2 separate regions of the Homo sapiens genome follow, and region 2 is linked to region 1. A link means that fine-mapping ties the variant in region 1 to the expression of a gene that starts in the linked region. Tissue or cell type: whole blood. Region 1 holds a variant in brackets; the other region holds the start of a gene. All regions are shown on one strand. Distances are between the middles of the regions.

The links. PIP is the estimated chance that this variant, and not a neighbour inherited with it, causes the effect.
Region 2: it holds the start of CFAP97, and the variant in region 1 is fine-mapped to the expression of CFAP97 in whole blood (TOPMed, PIP above 0.99).

The regions. Positions count from the first base shown.
Region 1 is chr4:185,372,771-185,375,528 of GRCh38, forward strand. LRP2BP (LRP2 binding protein) reads right to left here. Exons shown (of 9, transcript NM_001377440.1): 5 at 1,549-1,691; 6 at 1,365-1,470; 7 at 86-309. It also overlaps a transcript of SNX25 not described here. Among named protein-coding and RNA genes, the nearest start is that of LRP2BP, 22 kb to the right of the region's middle. The variant G/A (reference allele first, on the strand shown) is at 1,177.
Region 2 is chr4:185,202,917-185,205,523 of GRCh38, forward strand. It overlaps CFAP97 (cilia and flagella associated protein 97), which reads right to left and starts at 1,084. Exons shown (of 5, transcript NM_020827.3): 1 at 982-1,084. It also overlaps a transcript of SNX25 not described here. RefSeq lists silencers at 617-1,386, 996-1,167 and enhancers at 1,927-2,036, 2,147-2,236.

The DNA.
Region 1 (2,758 bases):
TGTGAGAAATAAATTTCTGTTTCTCATAAATTACCTAGTGTGTGATATTCTGTTACAGCAGCACAGAACAGACAAAGACATTCACCTTTTGGAAAATGCAACACACTTTGTAAAAAATTTCATCTTATAGTAATACTCCACGAGATTCCCTTGAGCATAGACGTTTCCGCGTTCTGCTGCTTCTCTTAAGCACTGCAGGGCAGCTTCCGTATCCTGCCGGATGCCTTGTCCATACAAGTACATGAGCCCAAGTGCACCCTGGGACTCCAGATTCCCATTGCCACATGCTTCGGAATGCCAGTAAAATGCCTAAGAAAAGCACAGTTTCATCATTGTATTTGTGATCCACTAGATGAAATTATAAGGGAATACTAGACAGAAAAGAACTCTGTGTTTCCTAGATAGCACTATTAATCATCTCTAGGAAAGAGCGGTAGGCCTTTGGACGCATTTCACACTAGCACACATGCCTAACACAGTGTGGAGGCGAGTTCCTCCGCTGTCTGTCCACAGTGCAGGTGAGATCACAGTCCAGGCAGCTTATGGCAGAGGAAGACCAGCTGTCCTAGGTTTCAGGATTTGGGGATCTTCAGAGTAAGGATCAGGAAGATGCCAAATAGGAACTCAGTGTCTGAAAGGCGTGAGGCACAGCAGAGGAGGGGAAACCACTGATGCTAAGGGAGAGTTCGAGCTCCCGGTGGATTCTAGAGATAGCAGCTGCTGCGATCAAAGACAACCCAGGATAAACGCTGTATGTAGGCTCAAGCACATTTGCCTCATACTCTGCTACAGTGAATTTGAATTCATTTAAAAAATTCCAGATGGCTGCTTATCTATCCAAAGATGGCCTTAGTTGTTATGTGTCTCTTGCAAATTTGCCATTAACTCCTCTCTCACAAGTAGGACTCAGCCCCCATTTCCTTCTCCTTATAGGATTTTTTGGAAACTGTTTCAACCATTGATGAAAGAGATTATATTTCTGTGAAAATCTTAGATGGATTTTATTTGTAACTAATTCTTGGTATATTTTACTTATTAGTATCAATTTCTCAAGTCAACGGTAATATTCATCTGTTCATGCTTAGAAGGATTTTGGCTGTAATTTCAGGACTGTTTCTCTTCTTTTAGCTTTGATACTATAGTATACAAAATACTCTCACATTCATGGTTTCCTTC[G/A]GTAGAGGTAGGGAAGGGGACATTTATAAATAAAAGGGCTTTGAGATCCTAAAATGTATGCTTTCTTTACATTTAAAGGAACTATAAGAGATATTTAAAACGACATTCCCCACCATTTTCTCAAAAAAAGCAGTGAAACAAATATTAATCTAAATATAACACTAGCATTAAAAAAGAGGGAACGTTACCTTTTCTAACTCCTTGGGCTCCTTGGTTGAGTAATACAGCCCGAGCATACTTTGAGCCTTCACACTAGCTTTGGGATTTCCATTGTCTGCTGCGATAAGCCACAGTCTACAAGAGAAAGTGAGGCATGTTATTCTCGGTTTCAGCATTTCCTTCAAACCTAATCTTGTTCTCAGGTAGGATTACCTTTCAGCTTCCTCATTTGATCGTTTAACACCTTTTCCTTCATAATAAGCTCTTCCGAGGTTGTAAGCAGCTGCAAATTTTAAGTGTCTTGCTTTGGGACATGGAGAATCAAGAATTTTCTTCATATAGTCCACCCCTTTCTCCTTCGACAAAAGAAAGAGCAAAAAAACCCTAGTTTTTAGTTTTACCCAAACTGAATTTCTTTCTCCCAATAAGGCTGTGAAGTGTCCGCCCTCTGACACGATGTATAATACTATGAATCTGTGCCCAAGGGGTACAATTGTCCTGGATTCTGCAGGGCAAGCGATAAGGAGGAAAAGAATCTCTAAAAGTACATCTCCTACTCAGGCACTCCCAGGAGCTCTGGGATATAAGAAATTTCCTTCCTTTTACAGCTGCCTGAGTTGATTTAAGTCTCGATATGGGCTTCCTTTTTTCTCTCCTCCCTCCCATCTAATAACCCTTATCCTGAATCAGCACAGTTCTTAGAACTGGCTAAAGTGGAAGAATGGCCAGGAACAGCTTTCACATTTATAATTCTTACGATACACTTGCGAGCCCCTAACAAACACCGTCTTCCATTCAAGCATACTTTTACTGTGTGCTCATAGTTTGTATCTAATATACAAATCTTATGCACTAATACGACATCTGCTACGTGGTCACAAGGAAAGCATAGAAGATATTCTAACCACTAGCAAGAACAGATCTGTACCCTCCACCCCCAAATCCATCAGACACAAACCTTCAAACATCACCCAAAAGAAGAAAATAATATTGGACAATCAAATATATTTTGGTTTTTGTTTGTTTGAGACAGAGTCTTGCTCTGTCACCCAGGCTGGAGTGCAGTGGCATGATCTTGGCTCACTGCAGCCTCCCAGGTAGCTGGGAATACAAGCATGCACCACCATGCCTGGCTAATTTTTGTATTTTTAGTAGAGCCTGGCCAACATGGTGAAATCCTGTCTCTACTAAAACTACAAAAATTAGCCAGGCGTGGTGGCAGTGCCTGTAATCCCAGCTACTGTGAAGGCTGAGGCAGAAGAATCACTCGAACCCGGGAAGCAGAGGTTGCAGTGAGCCGAGGTCGCGCCATTGCACTCCAGCCTGGGCGACAGAGCGAGACTCCGTCTCAAAAAAAAAAAAAAAAAAAAAAAAAAAAAAAAATATATATATATATATATATATATATATGTATATATATATG
Region 2 (2,607 bases), 170 kb before region 1:
ATTTACCAGAGAATAAGAAAAATGACTTAATAAAGTAGTTAAGATTCTCTTTACAACAGACTAGGAAAGGATAAAATTAAAGGATAGTTCATCAGACCATAACAACCCTTTGGTGCTCAATCAAGACAGAGTTTTGCCAGGAGGGGCATGGCTCACGCCTGTAATCCCCGGACTTTGGGAGGCCAAGACAGGAGGATCGCTTGAGCCCAGGAGTTGGGAGGCTGCAGTGAGACATGATCGTGCCACTGCACTCCACCCTGGGCCACAGAGCGAGACCCTGTCTCAAAAAATAAAAATAAAAAAAAGAGACAGGTAAGTTTTTATCAAAGCTGCCTGAGAGTCACTGGGCACGCCCCACTTGCCAGGTCCTACAGACCAGCAATAACAAGACTAATGCTTTCACCAAACATCAGGAAAATACACAGAAAAGCACCGGGCACTTTTTAAACTGTCATCTTGTTACTGTGACAATACATTTCTGTAGTTAAACAGCACAGTAGGCCTCCAACAAGATGCCCAATTGGGTACATGAAAATCCCGGCCCAAATTAAACACCTGTTTCCAGGAACGCTAGGCTCTTGTCTACATCCCCTACCGTCCCCGGAAGGCAGATAACCCCTCGGGCCTCGTGGGTTAGGTTCGAGTCCCTACAAGTAGGAAGAAGTCGTCAGGGCCCGGCATGTGGTCGCGGCCCAATCTCAATTTAGGGCTGATCCTGACCCTCAAAGCCACCCGGAACGCGCGAGAGGGCGGGACCCGCCATTCTCACAGGGGACCGGGGTGGAACGGCGCCGCGACCCGCCGCCGCGGGCGCCCCTGTCGTGGGGGCGCGGTCTCCCACCGTCCGCGCAGGCTTCGTTAAACCCACCCCGAGTACTCGCCGCCGCCTGGGCTCCGGAGCGGGGAGACGGATGCGAACGGAAAGGAGCGTGGCGGGCGCCCCGCGAGCAGGGAGCCAGGAGCCGCTCGCGCGCCCCTCACCTGAGAGCCGCGGCCACCACAGCCCCACGCGCGGCGCTGGCGCACTCCCGCGGCCCTGAACGGGCTCCCGGCGCCGCGCGCCCGCGCTTCCGGAGGCGGAGAGAGCGGAAAGGGAAAGGAGGGGCGGCGTGGGGCCCGGCGCTTCGGGAGAGGCGGGGGCGCACGCCGGGCCTCGTGCGGCCCTCGCGGCGGGCGTCACAGAGCGCGGCGGGCAGGCGGCCAGGCCGGGGCTCCACGCGGGCGGAGTGGAGGCCGGGCCAGGGACGCGCACACTAGAAGAGCCGCGGAAGAAGGCGGTCCAGCCCGCGTGGTTGCCATGGCGCCCTAGAGGCGTTACTGCTGCTCCCGGCTGCCTAGGGCGGCGCGGGTAGGCCCCGTTGTTCTCGTGCGTTAATAGGGAAAGCTGCCTTGATTATCTTGTAATTCTCTACCAAACCAAGAATAAAAAAGAACGGCGGCTGTGTGTTTGTGATATTTTCTATCAGCAAATTTCAGTTCATACCACTAGTTAGTTCTGTGGACCAGAGGCTGGTTTCAGAATGGAAAGACCTTTGCCGAGTGGTAAACGAGGTGGGTAGTTAAAACAATCTAAGGTAAAAATGATCTCTGCAGAATATATTGAATACAATAACTTCTCGTTGAACTCTCAGGTATGGTAGGATGATGGCACCCCAAAAATGTGCACCTCCTAGTCCCCACAACACGTGAATATGTCACCTTATGTGGCAGACAGGATTTAGCTGATGTGATTAAGGATCAAAATGGGAAGATTAACCAGGATTATCCAGTGAACCCCATGGAATCACAAAGGTCCTTATAAGATGGAGACAAGAAGTTCAAAGTCAGTAGTGGGAGCTGTGAGCACAGAAGCTAGAGGTTGGAGTGATGTCAGAGGCAATGAGCCAAGGAGTGCAGGTAGAAGCTGCAAAAGGAGGAAACGGATTCTCTCCTGAAACCTCAGGAAGGAACTAGAGCCTGCAAATTTTGATTTTAGACTTAATACCTTAAGCACTGTAAGACAATACACCTGTGTTGTTTTAACTACTGAATTTGTAGTAATTTGTTATAGCAGCAATGGTATACAATCCAGTAGTTAATAAATATTGTTCACATCTAAGTGCAAAGAAGGGTAGGAAATATGGGTCTTACCCTGCCTGTCCCGGGGAGTTCCAGTAAGGATTGTCTATTTTCGTCCTTCACAATGCATTTTGTACTTGTTGGTCTTAATTACCAAAAGTATAATCAATTCTCTTTTTGTTGCCTAAAAGACAGCATTGGCTGGGCGCAGTGGCTCACCCCTGTAATCCCAGCACTTCGGGAGGCCGAGGCGGGTGGGGCCCCCTGAGAGGAGTTCAAGACCAGCCTGACTAATATGGTGAAACACTGTCTCTACTAAAAATACAAAAATTAGCTGGGCGTGGTGACGTGAGCCTGTAGTCCCAGCTACTCGGAAGGCTGAGACAGGAGAATCGCTTGAACTCCGGAGGTGGAGGTTGCAGCGAGCCGAGATCGTGCCACTGCACTCCAACCTAGGCAACAGAGTAAGACTGTGTCTCAAAAAAAAAAAAAGCAAGAATTTCACTTTCTTTTAAAGTGCTTAATAAAACTGTGTTGGCACCACTTTCC